Regions from separate parts of the Homo sapiens genome. Here regions 1, 2 and 3 are each reported to be linked to region 4. The links are microRNA targets in miRTarBase. Many come from high-throughput screens and were not tested one by one. Region 4 holds a microRNA gene; each other region holds the end of a gene's coding sequence.

What was found. Region 4 holds the annotated microRNA hsa-miR-342-3p (UCUCACACAGAAAUCGCACCCGU, at 1,520-1,542, shown strand). A microRNA usually pairs through its seed, bases 2 to 8, with sites in the 3' UTR of a target mRNA and lowers its output. Matches are read on the target gene's strand: a 7mer-m8 pairs with bases 2 to 8, a 7mer-A1 pairs with bases 2 to 7 and ends in A, and an 8mer does both.
Region 1: miRTarBase lists KLF17 as a target of hsa-miR-342-3p. The part of its 3' UTR that is shown has no 7-base or 8-base seed match.
Region 2: miRTarBase lists SEPHS1 as a target of hsa-miR-342-3p. The part of its 3' UTR that is shown has no 7-base or 8-base seed match.
Region 3: the mRNA of C2orf72 is a reported target of hsa-miR-342-3p. Seed matches in the 3' UTR shown: 7mer-m8 at 2,035-2,041.

Annotation. Positions count from the first base shown.
Region 1 is chr1:44,130,434-44,134,433 of GRCh38, forward strand. It overlaps KLF17 (KLF transcription factor 17), which reads left to right. Exons shown (of 4, transcript NM_173484.4): 3 at 79-323; 4 at 2,805-4,000. The coding sequence ends at 323. Among named protein-coding and RNA genes, the nearest start is that of KLF18, 9.2 kb to the right of the region's middle.
Region 2 is chr10:13,315,927-13,319,926 of GRCh38, forward strand. SEPHS1 (selenophosphate synthetase 1) reads right to left here. Exons shown (of 9, transcript NM_012247.5): 9 at 1,502-3,430. The coding sequence ends at 3,216. Among named protein-coding and RNA genes, the nearest start is that of PHYH, 18 kb to the left of the region's middle.
Region 3 is chr2:231,046,646-231,050,645 of GRCh38, forward strand. C2orf72 (chromosome 2 open reading frame 72) reads left to right here. Exons shown (of 3, transcript NM_001144994.2): 3 at 237-3,074. The coding sequence ends at 376. LOC112268432 (a long non-coding RNA gene) reads right to left here. Exons shown (of 2, transcript XR_002959456.2): 2 at 2,231-4,000. Among named protein-coding and RNA genes, the nearest start is that of PSMD1, 8.2 kb to the right of the region's middle.
Region 4 is chr14:100,108,196-100,112,345 of GRCh38, forward strand. It overlaps MIR342 (microRNA 342), which reads left to right and starts at 1,460; the gene lies at 1,460-1,558. All of the region lies in intron 3 of EVL (Enah/Vasp-like), which reads left to right. It overlaps MIR151B (microRNA 151b), which reads right to left and starts at 1,319; the gene lies at 1,224-1,319.

The DNA.
Region 1 (4,000 bases), not on the chromosome of region 4:
GGACTGCTCTGCCTCACAGAGTTAGACCCCTTCCTTCCTACTGTATTCTAAATTCCATCTCTCCCTTGTCATTCCCAGGTGAGAGGCCATATTCTTGCAACTGGGAAAGTTGTTCATGGTCTTTCTTCCGTTCTGATGAGCTTAGACGACATATGCGGGTACACACCAGATATCGACCATATAAATGTGATCAGTGCAGCCGGGAGTTCATGAGGTCTGACCATCTCAAGCAACACCAGAAGACTCATCGGCCGGGACCCTCAGACCCACAGGCCAACAACAACAATGGAGAGCAGGACAGTCCTCCTGCTGCTGGTCCTTAGGTCAGTCTCCTCTCCTCATTCTGGGTTTTCTTTTTCCTTTTTTCCTTTTTATTTTTTTGAGACGGAGTCTCACTCTGTCTCCCAGGCTGGAGTGCAGTGGCGCAATTCGGTTCACTGCACCTTCCACCTCCCAGGTTCAAGTGATTTTCCTGCCTCAGCCTCCCGAGTAGCTAGGACTACAGGCACGTGCCACCAGGCCCGGGTAATTTTTTGTATTTTTAGTAGAGACGGGGTTTCACTGTGTTAGCCAGGATGGTCTCGATCTCCTGACCTCATGATCCGCCCACGCTGGCCTCCCAAAGTGCTGGGATTACAGGCGTGAGCCACCGCAGCCGGCCTCATTCTGGCTTTTCTACACAGATCCTACCTGCCTCTGACCAGTTCTTCTCTTTGGTGGGTGTAGGATTAGATGAAGACAGGAAGATTATGGGTCAGTGTTGAAGCCTACACGGAGCTCTGGAGCCAGAGACTCCTCAAACCCTGTCTCGGATGCCCTTAACCTCTCTGGGGCCACCTGCTTCTGCTGGAGTTTAGTCAGATGCGAATGTGGAGCACAGTAGAGACTGGGAGCTTCATTAAAATGCTCTTTATTTCTTGTCGCTCCCCAGCTTAAAACCCTTTAGTGACTCCTTTGCTTGCTACATAAAATCCAGTTTCCAGAGCCAGACTATTTTCAAATCCTGAATTTGCCACTTAATATCCATGTGACCTTGAGAAAGTTCTTGGATCACTATGCTTTGTTTCTTCCAGAAAATGAAAAAACTAGTTTTGTACTGTATTAGACGTGGCACATATACTGCATCATTCTCCCTGGCACTCACTGGCCATGTACCCAGAGTTTCTGTTTCTTCCCACCACTTTACAGACTTGGATGGAATGCCCTGGCATAGGGCATGGGATCTGGCATCCCAAGTTGCTGCTAGCAAACTTAGAAGTGTGGGGAAATTTATTTATTTGAGACAGAGTCTTGCTCTGCCACCATGGCTGGAGTACAGTGGTGTGATCTCAGCTCACTGCAACCTCTGCCTCCCGGGTTCAAACGATTCTCCTGCTTCAGCCTCCTGAATAGCTGGGATTACAGGCAAGCACCACCACACCCAGCTAATTTTTGTATTTTTTGTAGAGACGGGGTTTCACCATGTTGGCCAGACTAATCTCAAACTCCTGGCTTCAAGTAGTCTGCCCACCTCAGCTTCCCAAAATGCTGGGATTACAAGCATAAGCCATGGTGTCTGGCTGGGAGTTAATATTTATGGGATAAAATTTGAGGCCGGGCGCAGTGGCTCACGCCTGTAATCCCAATACTTTGGGAGGCTGAGGCGGGTGGATCACAAGGTCAGGAGTCTTGAGACTAGCCTGGCTAATATGGTGAAACCCTGTCTCTACAAAAAATACAAAAATTAGCTAGGCATGGTGGCGTGCGCCTGTAGTCCCAGTTATTCGAGAGGCTGAGGCAGGAGAATGGCTTGAACCCGGGAGGTGGAGGTTGCGGTGAGCCAAGATTGTGCCATTGCACTCCAGCCTGGGTGACAGCAAGACTCCATCTCAAAAAAAAAATTTTTTTTTTGACTAGTGGAAAATGGGAGATAGGTGAGACTCAGGCAAATCAATTCCCCCTTTTCCCCTGCCTTTCATAAATTGCTGCATGGCACCAACTCTCCAAAACAGTACCATCAATGGGGAGGCCTCCCAAGTAGCCGGTGGACAGAACTACTGTGACCTCTGCAAGGCTTGTCATGAAGCAGTGCCCACCCCAGCCTATTAAATACATCACCTTACGTTACTTCCCATTCTTTCCCGCCTTTCTTCCATTTTCTCACTTCCAATGCCTTGGGTTTGCACCTCTCCAAATAAAACACCAGTACTTAGTTCTTGTTTTCAGGCTCTGTATTCTAGGTGACTGAGGACTAGGAGGGAGAGGAGGACCTAAGCCTGGGGCAGATAAAGATGAATCTCACTGTAACTTCTTCTCCTCCCACCTTCCTTAGGTCCCTGGACTACAAAGCACCAGATATTAAGTGGCCTATCTTTCCTTGCTCTCCCTTGGGGTTAAGGGGATAATGACTATCTTGGCAAACCAGCCAGGTAGTTTAGAACCTCATATTTAGACTCGGCAGGCTGTTTTACTCCAGGAAATTGATAGAGAGAAAGGAACTTGGCCAAGCTATCAAGTGCAGATCTAGAATCCCAACCAGGATCTGTCTGCCCCAGAGGTGGTCTCTTCCGTAAGAAGATGGTGCCTTCTATGGGTGTTTCCTGAACGAGGCTGGTGCCAAGCACAGAGAGATGAATCAGAGCTGGTTTCTGTGCTCAAGGGACCGTCTTGATCTGGGGGCTCAGAGGTCCACCTCGGTACAGTAGCCATGGGGAAGAGGAGCCCCTAATGGAAGGGTCAGAAAGGCTCTCTGGAGGAGGTAATCCCTGGGCCCAGTAAGAGTGTAACACCTAGTAATCCCTCAAATTTTGAAATAAACTGAACAGGTGAATGAAGAAGGAAGAGGATTCCAGGCTGAGAGCACTGGACGTGGCAACTGTTCAGAGGAGAGGCAGTCTTCAAGTTCTACATTCATTCAGAAAAATGTTTTTTGAGCCTACAATACTGAGCGCAACAAGGCTGTGGAGACCCATGGTGAGGAGCATGGAGTTAACTAAAGGATGTGTCAGGGAAGAAAGACTTCTCAAGGAGGTGCCTCCATCAGACCCAAAGGACTCATGGGGGCTAGCTGCACCTCACATTTCTTGGACATATACCGTTGGACATGTCTATCTTCTGGAAACTATGGCATGGACAGTAAGGATTCAGAAGTGCATGAAGGCACCCTGCCTCTGCAGAGCAGAAAGATCATAGACAACATTTATGAATGTGCCCAGTGCTGCCAAGAAGAGAAGCCGGTCCTCTGCAGGCTCAAGCCTATCTGGGCCTCTGGGGAAGCCCCACAGCCTTGGCTGTGCCTGCCCCTGCCCTCTCACCCCTACCCTGACCTTGTCCTACTTCACTGCCTTTGTCTGTGTTACTAGTGGCCCCAGTATACCTGGGATGGACATCCAGGTGCCCTTCATCCAAGCTCCTATGTGAGGGGAATGGACATTATTAAAAGAACAGGGGCAGAAGTGGCTCATTTATGACCCATTCACTAGCCCCAGGGATTGAAGTCTTGGGTACTCAAAGTGTCTTTCTACCAGGGCACCAGATCCCTTCCATGGAGCAGGTCATCTCGGGTTCACTGGGCCAGGGATGGTCTCTGTTCCCCAGCCCACCTGGCTCACACACAGCCTCATGGGTAGGGTCAGCAAACCAGATGGCTTGTTGTTGGAATGTAGGATGAGAGGCCTGCTTGGTGACCTAGCATTTTCACCAAGAAGTGGACGTGGAGAGGACCAGAGTGATCAAGGGTGTATGATGTGCACTACAATGGTGGGCAAAACAGGCTCCTGCTCTTGTGGAGGTCACAATCTAGCGGAGAAAGGATGTTACTAGAAGTACACAAATTGGGCCCGGCGCGATGGCTCACGCCTGTAATCCCAGCACTTTTGGAGGCCGAGGCAGGCGGATCATTTGAGGTTAGAGATTCGAGACCAGCCGGGCCAACATGGTGAAACCCCATCTCTACAAAAAATACAAAAATTAGCCTGGCATATGGCGGGTACCGTAATCCTAGCTACTCGGGAGACTGACG
Region 2 (4,000 bases), not on the chromosome of region 4:
GTCTCGAACTCCTGTGCTCAAGTGATCCTCCTGTCTCAGCTTCCCAAAGTGCTAGGATTATAGACGTGAGCCACCATGTCTGGCCTGTCCACTGACTTTTAAAATGTTCTACATAGATTTTGCCAAGAACTCCAATATTCAGTGACAATCATTTGAGTCTTCGTGGAGCTTTCAAAATACAGGTCTTTCTGCTGCCTTGCTGGGCCGTAGCTCAGATGTGGGAAGTAAACAGAATGGTCAAGATTTGGTCGGAATGGTCGGTAAGAGAATGGTCGAGGAAAAAATTCCTGCAAAATATGTTGCAAAAGGCTGGGCATGGTGGCTCACACCTGTGATCCCAGCACTTTGGGAGGCCAAGGCAGGCGGATCGTTTGAGCTCAGTTCGAGACCAACATGGCAAAACCCTGTCTCTACTAAAAATACAAAAATCAGTCAGGCTTGGTGGCATGCGCCTGTAATCCCAGCTACTCGGGAGGCTGAGGCGGGAGAATCACTGGAACCTGGGAGACAGAGGTTGCAGTGAGCTGAGATCGCACCACTGCACTCCAGCCTGGCTGATAGAGAGACTCCGCCTCAAAAAAAAAAAAAAAAAAAAAGTTGCAAAACCAGGTCCTCTTACTTTCCCTGCCTTCCTCTGCAACATTCCTTTTGAGATCAGTTTTTTTTTTAAATTATACTTTAAGTTTTAGGGTACATGTGCACAACGTGCAGGTTTGTTACATATGTATACATGTGCCATGTTGGTGTGCTGCACCCATGGTTCTGAAACTTTTTTGGCCATAGCCCCATAGGGTCCTTATTTAAGATATTCCCAAAGTCCCACACCCCAGAAATTCTGATTCTGTGAATCTGGAAAATCAGGGGCAGGAATGTTGCCTTCTAACACCCCGGGTGATTCTAACACAGGTGAATCTGGGCCACTATACAATACTGGTTTTTGTTTGCTTGTTGAGACTTGAGTCTGTTTCTTGAGACTGAGTCTCTGTCGCCCAAGCTGGAGTGCAGTGGTGTGATGGCAGGTTGCTCACTGCAACTTCTATCTCCCGGCTTCAAGCGATTCTTGTGCCTCAGCCTACCCAGTAGCTGGGAATACAGGTGTGCGCCACCAAACCCAGCTAATTTTTGTATTTTTAGTAAAGACAGGATTTCACCATGTTGGCAAGTCTGGTCTTGAACTCTGGACCTCTGGTCATCTGCCCACCTCGGCCTCCCACAGTGCTGATATTACAGGTGTGAGCCACCATGCCCAGCCAACACTGCTTTAAATACAAATTCTTCCTCTTGGGATCATAAGACTTACACGGACCTCTAAGTACCCAACATTTTCTCTTTATAAATATCAATCTTCACAAATATTATTTCCTTAAGTACATACTCCACTTAGCTCCCTCCTCTCAATAGGCCTGCCACTGAGGAAAACACCAGCTCTCACGGCACAGGCTACACTGAAGTTCAGTCATCGTTATTTAAAAAAAAAAAAAAAAAAAAGCTCAACAGTAGGTTTATCTCACTAGAGGTTTCCAACACACTTTATTTTGCAGACCACTGGTTTGTAGCTTTTGAGGACCAACATCTCTATCAATTCCTATAAAATGTCCAATCACTTTCAGTTCCGTAGCAGGCTCTTCCATACTGCACACCATGCTTATGGCTGGAGGTCCAGTTACACATGCATGAAGGCTGCCCTGCCCACTGGTTCCTGGAGGAGGGCGCGTCCGAGTTAAAGCCTCTTCCAGGAGCTTGAACTTCCCAGGGGTCATTTCCTTTGGCAAGAAGTCAGTTTACATGTGCAGCTTTGGTGCCTGTGAGCAGAAAGCACCAGAAATGGGCAGGATGTGCTGCTTTTTCTCTCACGAAGATGGGCACTTGAGGATCCAGCGCCCTTGTGCTTAATGACAGGAATCCCTCCTCATTGCTTAGTAGGTTAAAATATAAGGAAGCCTCCACTTTACATAACACAGAGAACACCTTTTTAGATTGCCTATTTATTCTAGAACTACAAAATTTAATTCAAGAAAATATAGGTCCCATGAAAGACTTAAAAGTTTTATAAAACTAAAATCTAGTTTTTCCCGATAAATTGTACTTTAGGCAAAACCCTCCCAACGCTTCTAAAATAATACTAAAAGGGGCATCTGATTATACAAGAGCAATTTAAAAAATTAAATATTTATTTGAATAACAAGTTTAAGTTCGAGCTGCAATGTTGGCAATGCAGGTTTTTAACACAGATCACAAAAAGCGTGCACAAAAAAGTACTGGCGCAAAGGACAAAATAATGCTAAGAATTAGGCCAAACAGCTGCTGATTTTAAGAAAACAAAAGGCCTGAAATCACTGTACAAAATAGAAAATGTATTAAACACTACCATCCACAGAACAGTCTTTACTATTGATTATATTTAAAAATTATTTGTGTAATTATATATTGAATTGTAAATGAGTATTATACATGAACCTCCATTCGGAAGGCAATTCCTTGTAGCACTATAGAACATCTAATAACATTGCAAAAAGTATCCTTTTTTGCTATCGATAAAACAGTTAATGGTATTACTGTAAATATCAGGAAGGCTACAAAAAAAGAAATAAGATTTCTTTTTTGTCTTCAAAGTGTTTTCCATGCAATGAAGCACTTGCTGTGTTGAACTGAATGCACTACTGGAGAATGTTCTGGGTCCGAGATGCTCTTGAGAGACAAGACTAGGCTTTTCAAATCAAACACTCAAAGGAATCATGCAACCCTCTTATGACTGGGATACCGTCATGTGCCACTTACCAATGCTGTCTCTCCAGAAAACCATTCAAGACGCTTAAAAAAAAAAATCAGACTTATATGATAAATATACATAAAATGAAGACACCAACTGCTATTTGACACGACTACGGGTAATGCCTGTGCTATGTGAAAGCACCTTTAAAAAGCCTATGCGGCAAGAGATAAGTGTCTAAAGATTCAAAATGAATCAACAGTATTGGATAACAATATAATTCTCAACTCAGAAGCTGCCTCAAGATTAGGTGCATCTTCAGTTAATGTAACAGGAAAAAAAGGCAATGGATTTTATTTTATTAATTGTATCCACTTACAAACCGACCTAAGGTCACCCCGATGTGTAGACACAATGAGATTTTTGTTGTTTATAGTCTTTAATTGAAGTGATAAGGGAAATAGATCTATTTAAAAACAAAACCAAACAGCTATTTCTGTCTAGATTAAGAGGTGGCCCCGGGTGTGGGATTCACATTTTGAGTGGCCACTTGTGGTGCGACCTCGATGATCCGGGGTTTGTCTATGATTCTGGCTGTGCGGTTGCCCTTCTCTACAATCCCAATAATCCATGCTTGGTGGCCTTCACCATATTTGGGGGACTTTATCTCTGCACAGAACCGAGCTGCTTGCTCACGTGGTAAACAGATCAGAAGGCCGCCTGGCAAAAGAAAACAAGAATGACTGTTAGTGTTGACATGACAGCAGCTTCTCTGCCTCTGCTGCTTCTGCAGAGATCCAACTTCCATCAACAACTTGCTGCCACCTATATGCAAGTAGCTCTTCCCATTCAACTAAGCAGCTTTTTTTTGAGACAGGGTCTCACTCTGTGGCCCAAGCTGGAGTGCAGTGGTACAATCACAGCTCACTGCAGCCTCAATGTCCTGGCTCAGGTGACCCTCCCACTTCAGCTTTCCCAGTAGCTGTGATTACAAGTGTGCACCACCACACCTGGCTAATTTTCTGTAGAGACAAGGTTTCACTGTGTTGTCCAGGCTGGTCTAAAACTCCTGGACTCAAGCAATCCACCTGCCTTGGCCTCCCAAAGTGCTGAGATTACAGGAATGAACCACCACTCCCAGCCTAAGAGGCCTGTTCTATGCTGTAATTAAGCAATTGCTAGTAAACTCCTAACACACACACATATACACTCCAACTTTCAACTGTGAAAATGACCTATTCGTGAACCACATAACACTGTGTAGGGGTAAGGTGTTTGGGGCTTCAATAA
Region 3 (4,000 bases), not on the chromosome of region 4:
GTAGCAAGATAGCTCCAGCAGTTCCACTAATTATTCCTAATTATTTTCTTAGGATAAAATCCTAGAAGTGAAATTTGTGGGTCAAAGGGTGTGTACATCGTTAAGGTTTTTGATATGTATTTTGTTTTGTTTTTTAAGTAGGTATTTGCTGGGGACAACTTTCTCCTTTTCCTTCCTAGATAACTCACTCACAACCTTTCTCTTCTGATTCAGTGATTTCTTCTCCTGTGTTCCAGAAGACTTCCAGGAACCTGAGGAGGAGCTGCCACTAACAGCCATATTTCCCAATGGAGACTGTGATGACCTTGGAAGGGGGTCAAAAGCCTGTGATGGAGTCGTACACACTCCTGCTGAGCCCACCGGAGACTCAAGATGAAGGCTGGACCCTTGCGCTGTCCCTGGCTCTAACCTACAGACTGGGGCCTGGCTCCGTCTTACTGGCCCCCAGGTCTCCATGGAGACTGCAGAAACCCCCGCCTGCTGGAGGCCTGCCACACTCACAGTTACCAGCTAGACAGTGGGGCTTACTAAGACAAGCAGGACCTAAAACAGTGTCTCCCCTGGGAACCTACTCCCCACCCAGCATTTGCTAAGTCTGATCACAGGGAGGTTATTTTGTCTCTCTGTCTCGGTTTCTCTGAGCCACTGAGACAGATGGCTGTCCGCTTTGAGGCTCTGCAGAGCTGTGGCACCCCATGGTGTGTCTGCAGTGTTCTGGGCACATGCATGGGCACCCATCGTTGAGAGTGCAGCTGGGAAGAACTCTGAACCAGAAGTCATCAGAGCTGAGGCATGGCCTTGAACATGTCACTCAGTCTCTGGGGCTTCTGTTTCACAAATGCATGAGGGGGCCACCAGCCCAGTGGCTTTAAACCAGGGGCAGGTTGTCCCTCCAGGCAGCATTGGAAATGTGTGTGTGTTGAGGGGGTCACAGTGACTGTGGGGGCACCCCTGGCATCTAGTGGGCATCCCACAATGTGCAGAACAGTCTCTGACAGCAAAGAATTGGTCCATTCAATGCCAATTGTAGTACCTTTGAGACATTCTGGCTGAGCCAATGCCTTCTCCCTGTCAGAGTCCCCCAGAGCAGAGAGGGTCAGGCTTCCCTGGACCTTGGCTCCCAGAGCAAGCCAAAATAAAGACTACACTGTTGCCTTGGGGGCTTGTCGGGCCAGGGCCAAGACGGTCTGCGTGCTGCAGGGCCAGGACAGAAATAGCCACACATGCCGGTGAGAACAAAGAGCCTCTTTCTTTCTCATGTTGACATCGACTTTCTGTGCCAAGTCCTTTGGGTATAAGGATGCTAGGGAATTCCTATAGGCACCAAACAGAAGGAAAGCTAGGGGCTTGGACTACTGGGTATAGGACTTGCTCTAGCTCTCAGGTCCTAGCCCAAGCTCAATGCAAACACAGCCCCTCCGGGCTCTCTGTTTCTGTGAGGTTCTGGAATCCCTTCCTCTGTGTCCGTGAGTCTGACAGAATCGATGATGTTCCCTTAGAGCTGGGAAATCCATGTGTTTATTCACGGAGGGAACTCACCATTACCTCCCTTGTCTTCTTTGCCTGCCTTGGAGAAATCCAGAGTCTTCGGAATGGCAAAGGCAGCTCCTGGATTTCCCTGGAGGGGAGGCACTAGCTGAGGGAAGTAGCTCCCTTCATTCATGATGCACAGTTTACGCAGCAGACACACAACTGCGCCTACTATTTGCTCGGTGCCCTGCAAGGTGCTGCCTAACTTTGATTTGTTATTTCAGCTCTCTCCAGGATAGTGCCAAATGGTGCAATGGGAAACCTGTTTTGCTGGGGGGCTCTAGATCACTGGCTCCAGAACTCCCGGCTGCCAGGGTAGCCCCTACCCCCAGCCCCTTGCTCCTGGACAGCAGTGGGTCTCACCTTTAGCCTCTGCCCCCAGTTCTGGTCTGACCCAACAGAGGGGCTCTATGATATTAAGAAGGGGCCCTTCCTGCTCTGTGCCTCAACCTATTCTCCATAATAGGGAGTCTAATCCTATTCCTTCCCTGCCTGATGAGGATGGTGTGAGGATGAGGAGGACGGCATCTCATTTGGGGCTTTTTGGCAGTGGGCCTCATTTTAATCCTGCAGGGCTGCCTGCCAGTGGATCTATCCAGCTGCTTCCTTGTAGCCAAGAATGAGTTCAATGAATTGTGATTCACTGATTTTATTGATTTTGTTTTAAAACAGGGAGACTGGTATTTTTGAAGCTGCTATCATTTTCTATTTCTTTATTAATTTCTTTGTAATCATCTTATTAAAGTTTTCTTATTTAGTGGGAGAGGGAGCTTTGTTTAAGTTTGGAATTTGCCTAAGGCAGAAGTTATAAGGCTTCATAACCTTTTGTATGTATTGCCAATATTTGAAACTTGGGAGATTACGTATAAAAAATACCTAGTTTTCTGGGTGGAGGATGGGGCATGCTGTCATCTCAAGTCTGCTGCGGCTCACCCCCACCACCTTTACCCCCTCCCCCGCCCTTCCCATCCCCCACTGCACTTCACTCATGTAAGACGTCTGCCCGGTGCTGGTCCAGGCGGGCATGTGAGTTTGTAGCCTCTGCTCCAAAGGATGGTTTACACATTATTTTTTCATTACCTTCAGTATTCCTGTGAATGGTTCAAGAGAGAAAGTCTTCATTTACTAAGATTTGGGTTCTGCCTCCCAAGTGACAATACGGGGCTGAGATCCCTCTCAGCTTCTTTGAGATGTGGCCACCATAAGCATCATCGTTGTAGGGACAGTCTCATTGCTGTCTTCTAGCAGACAGAAGAGTTAGGTGCCAGAAAGGACAATCTTGATGGTGGGTCCCCTCCCTGAAGGACTTTAAGAAGGCATAAAGGGGTTGGGGTGGAGGGTGGCGTGTGAAGGAGGAGGCCCTTGATTAGGTCAGTGGTCCCTGGGAGCCATCGGCGAGAGGCCTCCAGCCGGGTGACAGTCTGGGCTCTCGGGTACTAATCTTTCTAATATGGCAGTGGTTGTGGCACTTCTGACTTGAATTGATAATTCTCATATCTAATAAAACCAAGAAGTACCTCGTTGATATCTTATAGAAAACAAAATGGATCTTCTTCATTCTCCTAAGGGGCTCCTTGCAGAGAGACCCTGGAGAGCAGGGAAGCTTGGCAAATGGTGGAAATCTGTGGCCTGAAAGCCTCCCAGCCTCTGCCCTGGGTGACATCTCCCCTGCCGTACCAGCTGGGATTAAAAAACCTGTAGCGAGAAAGCATAAGTATATATTTAAAAAATGATTTTTAAATTTTTGTAGAGACAGGGTCTCACTATGTTGCTCGGGCTGGTTTCAAACTCCTGGGCTCAAGTGATCCTCCCACCTCGGCCTCCCAAAGTGTTGAGGTGACAGGCATGAGCCAATGGCCAGATTTTTGAAAAGACAGCATTCAGCTTAGGATACAATGGTGTGTGTGTGAGCGTGTGAGCACGCACATGCATGTTTAACCAGAGCTAAAATAACCTTAACTGAGTCTCAGAGAATTCTTTCTACTATTTGGGTCACACTTTTTCTCCTCTCCTAGTGTTTGTCTCCAAACCTTAGTGCACAAGAGTCCCTGGGTTGTCAAACCCAAAACTTAAGGCAACCCTGCAAAGGGGCCAGGAGCTGAGTCCCCAAACCTTTGAACTGAACGAGCCCCCCTTACCCTAGCAGAGAACTGTGGATTCAGCCTTGCTGGAGAAGACGAAGGACTGCCTGGTTAACTTGAAAGCAGCCTGTACTTTAAAGTGTAGCAAAGCAAAGCTGCAGGCTTTATTCCCTGGGGTCAGGAGGCCTGGACTTTGTCCTGTTTGTATGGCAAACACAGCCAGCCCAGTGAGTGAGTGCAGGAAGCTGGCTGTTTGTACCCAAGGGCTGCATAACCGCTTCTGACCTGGTTTTGTGTGTTAGTGGATCGAGGATTGGGACAGACGTGGAATTTGGCCTGGGCAGCCTGCCACTTGTGTAACCTTGGAGCTCAGGAAAAAATGAGGTGCA
Region 4 (4,150 bases):
CAGACCTTCCCGGGAAGAGTCAGGCCCAGCTCCATGTGCTCTTTGGAGGGGAGTGGAAGGTTGTTAAACCTCATAGCTCTTGGAGGTGGGGCTGAATTTTGCTTCTTGTAAACCTCTTTCCATTGGAAATTACCTCTTTCTCCCCTAAAGAGAAGGAAGTACTGGACTGTCTTCATCTCCCTGGCTGCCGAGGCCATTTGACACCTTGTGCCACCTGAGAGAAAGCAGGCCCAGCATGGCCCTGCCTGAGGGGAACAGGACGGCAAGCCCCTGGCCTCCTGCCTGCTCCCAGCTGCCCTCTGGCGGCCACTTTCTGAAAGCCGGATATGTCTCTTTGCTGACCCACCCCTGTTCTCACCCCAGGGCTCCAGATGTTGTATCAGGCAGGGCCTTTGTACGCCTCCATGCCAACAGCTACCCAAGTCGCACCGTCAGTCACACTCTTACTCAGGCTCTCCTGTGCCCCTGGCCCTTCTTCCCCTCTCACTTTTCCCCACACTTCTAAAATCTCACTCGTCCTGTCAGAATGTGGCTCCACAGATGGAGCCTTTCCCAGCCGCCCCGCTCCCTGTGACTTTGCACTCCCTCCTGCACTCCCACGGGGCTTTATTTTTGCCTCTGTCCTAACAGTCAGCTGCCACTTGGCCTGTCCTGCTATTCCCACTGCATGAATCTAGTCAGGTTGGAAATTCAGAAAGTGGCCTCTTTGTCTCTGGACCCCAAAAACCCACACATCGTCTGCCTTATAAGCTCTCAGTATATCCATCCCTGGCTGCAGGAACACACCAGGACCCAGAGGCTGCCGTGCCTGGAGCCCTGTCTCCTGACTCAGCCCAGGCCCCAGCTCAGCATCGAGGTCCTGTGGGACCATGTCCAGCAGTGAAGGCTGTGCATTGGCCTGAGCCCCTGGTCCCTCTGACTCACTGGCTCCCATTTTCACCACCTGCACTGCATATTCTCACCGTCTCTCCCCTGACACTCTCTCCCCTGAAGTGTTGTAATGGGGTTGTAACCCATCCACCTTCTCTTGTCCTTCTTCAGTCTGTCCTCCCTGGGCTGCGTCTAAAGGGGCCCCGCCCCTGCCCTCATGCATGTTCTCTCCATACTCCTGGTCACCTTCTGCTCATCCTTTGCCCTGCTGTTGTGAAGCCTTCCCAGTGCCCCAGAAGACCTCAGGCACCCCTTCCCAGTCCTCGCACACTGTTGGTGTCCCATTTGTTTGGACCCTGGGTTTGTTTGTCTAGACTGTGAGCTCCTCGAGGGCAGGTGTCTGTTTCTGTGTCTCGGGAGCCCTGAAGAGAGACTGACACATCAGAGGTGTCTGGTGACTGAACAAGCTCCCAGCTTGCGCCCATGTCATATTGTGTGCCTCTCATAGCCTGGCACTTCCTGCCATTGCATCCTTCTCTGCAGACTAAGATGGAGTTCCTGAACCAAGACCGCTTGCTGGCCAACCTGTGAAACTGGGCTCAAGGTGAGGGGTGCTATCTGTGATTGAGGGACATGGTTAATGGAATTGTCTCACACAGAAATCGCACCCGTCACCTTGGCCTACTTATCACCACCCCAAACAGAGGAACACGCCTTCTCCAGCCACAGCCTATGGAAGGGCCTTCAGCTGCTGTGGCCCCGAGGTGTGCATACTGTGGAAGGAACTTCGGACGTGAACTCGGATCTGGTTCCAGTACCAGCTGTGCCAGGAGTGTGCCCTTGGGCATGTCACTGACCTAAGACTCAGTTTCGCCATCTGTGAAATGGCTGAATCAGACTCACCTCACAGGGTTGTTGTGAGGGTACCATGAGATGATGTTTGTAAACATTCTTTGTCACCTCTAAATTACTATAACAGTTTGAAGTTACTCTTTTTAAAAAAATTATTTGCAAAGGTAACTAACAATATCAGCCGTGCACAGTGGCTCATGCCTGTAATCCCAGCACTTTAGGAGGTCAGGGGATCACTTCAGTGTGAGAGTTCGAGACCTGCCTGGTCAACATAGCAAGACCCTTGTCTCTACAAAAGCATTAAAAATTAGCTAAGTGTGATGGCGTGTGCCTGTGGTCCCAGCTACTCAGGAGGCTGGGGTAGCAGAATTGCTTGAGCCCTGGAGTCTGAGGCTGCAGTGAGCCATGGTTACACCACTGCACTTCAGCCTGGGCAACAGAGCAAGACGCTGTCTCAGGAAAAAAAAAAAAAGGTAACTAACAATATCAACTCCTGTGTGGTGCCAGCAGCCATCACGTTGGGACACAGAGGGAAGCCAGGCTTCTTGGATCCTGATGGTCAGAGAACACTTTCTGAGGGAAGCGGGGCTTGAACCTGGGCCCTGCAGGGCTGGGGGTGAATGGGGGGATCTGATGAGGAGGAGGACGGCGGCACCAGCAGATCTTGGTGGTTTGGAAGTTCAAATCAAGATCTGAGAAGAGGCTCTGTCTGACCCTGGGGGTCTCCCTCGGCACATTGGTAGTACTGTGCATGCCTCACGGGTGCCCCTAATTTCAGAGCATCCCACCTGCATCCTGCTGCTGCCATTGTCCTCCTCAAAAGAGCTGCTGGCTTATTGCAGTTTACATCCTAGAGAAGAGAGGTCTCCTCCTTCCACCAGTCCCAGGATTATCTCCCTAACGCTAATGGCGAGATTCCTTTGGAGTTTTAGTCTTCTGTAGATACAGCCCAGGCGCCATGTGCCCAGTCAGGGTTTGAGATAGGTGGTGGTTCATTCCCCAGCCTTGCCTCACCAGCACCTTCCTGACGCCTCCTGGTAGGGCTCAGGAAGCAGCCAGCTGAGGTGTGCCTGCCATGGTCAGCACAGTGGTTGACAGAAGTGGCACAGATTGTGGGGGCAGGTGACAGGGTACCATGCCCTAGCTCCAGGCACCCGCTCCACCCTGTCACATGGAGCAGCTGTGAAACCTTGAGCAAGCCATTTCACCATTCTAAGCCTTAGTGTCCTCATTTTTTTTTTTTTTTTTTTTTTTTTGTGATAGAGTCTAGCTCTTGTTGCCCAGGCCGGAGTGCAGTGGTGCAAACTCAGCTCACTGCAACCTCTGCCTCCCAGGTTCAAGCGATTCTCCTGCCTCAGCCTCCCAAGTAGCTGGGACTACAGGCATGCGCCACCACGCCCGGCTAATTTTTGTATTTTTAGTAGAGACAGGGTTTCACCATGTTGGCCAGGCTGGTCTTGAACTCCTGACCTCTGGTGATCCACCCACCTCGGCCTCCCAAAGTGCTGGGATTACAGGTGTGAGCCACCGTGCCCGGCCAGTTTCCTTGTCTTTAAAATGGGTGTGACAACCACCTCACAGAGTTGTCATGAGGCTCAAATGATAAAATAGATGGGACTGTGATTTGTAAGCATATGGCACAGTGAATGCAAGTTGTTCCTGGAGTGCCCAATCCCTAGATACTGGGATCTCACCCCTCAGTCGTAGCCAGAGTCATTTCATTCTGGTGTGCCACCACCCAGAGCTAAGCCGTATACTCCTTACAGAAAGGAACAAACCCCTTCCTGGATGCTCTTGTGCCTGGATCTTGGCTCCCTGAGATTGCAGGGAGATAGCAGGAATTACTTTCTCCATTTTAAGAAGGAAGAAACAAAGGCTCACAGTGCTAAGAAACTTGCCCCAGGCCACTCTGGTGAATGCAGAGCTTAAGGCCCAGAGCCCAGATGTTCTGATTTCCAGTCCAGGTCTCTGCCCAGTGGACCAGACTGCCTCTCAAAAGACCCTGCTCAGCTGGCAGCCCCCCAGCTTTCTAAACTATAACCCGGCTTGGTCAGAGGTTGATTATTATAAACACTTAACCTGCCCCATCTTTCTAGCCACATACCCACATCTTCGAAAGTGAGGGAAGAATTCATTCACAGCTGTTTTCTTTTTTCCTCGCGTAGCGTGTATCATTTCTTTCCTAAGGAAGGAGTTTTACAAGTAGCCTCCTGCCAGCTTCAGCTCATATAGGATAAAAGCCAGCTCAAATATTTTGGTAGATAACTCCGGAGACTCAGAAAGCCAACTGCTGAACTTGAGATACAGTTTCCAGTTTGAGAGTGGACAGGCTGCGAGTGTTTGAGGCCCTGCCCCCTGCCTATCTGCTGCCTGCCCTCTCTCATCCAGGTGTCCATGCAGCAGGGGGTTTCACAGCAGCCACTGTCTG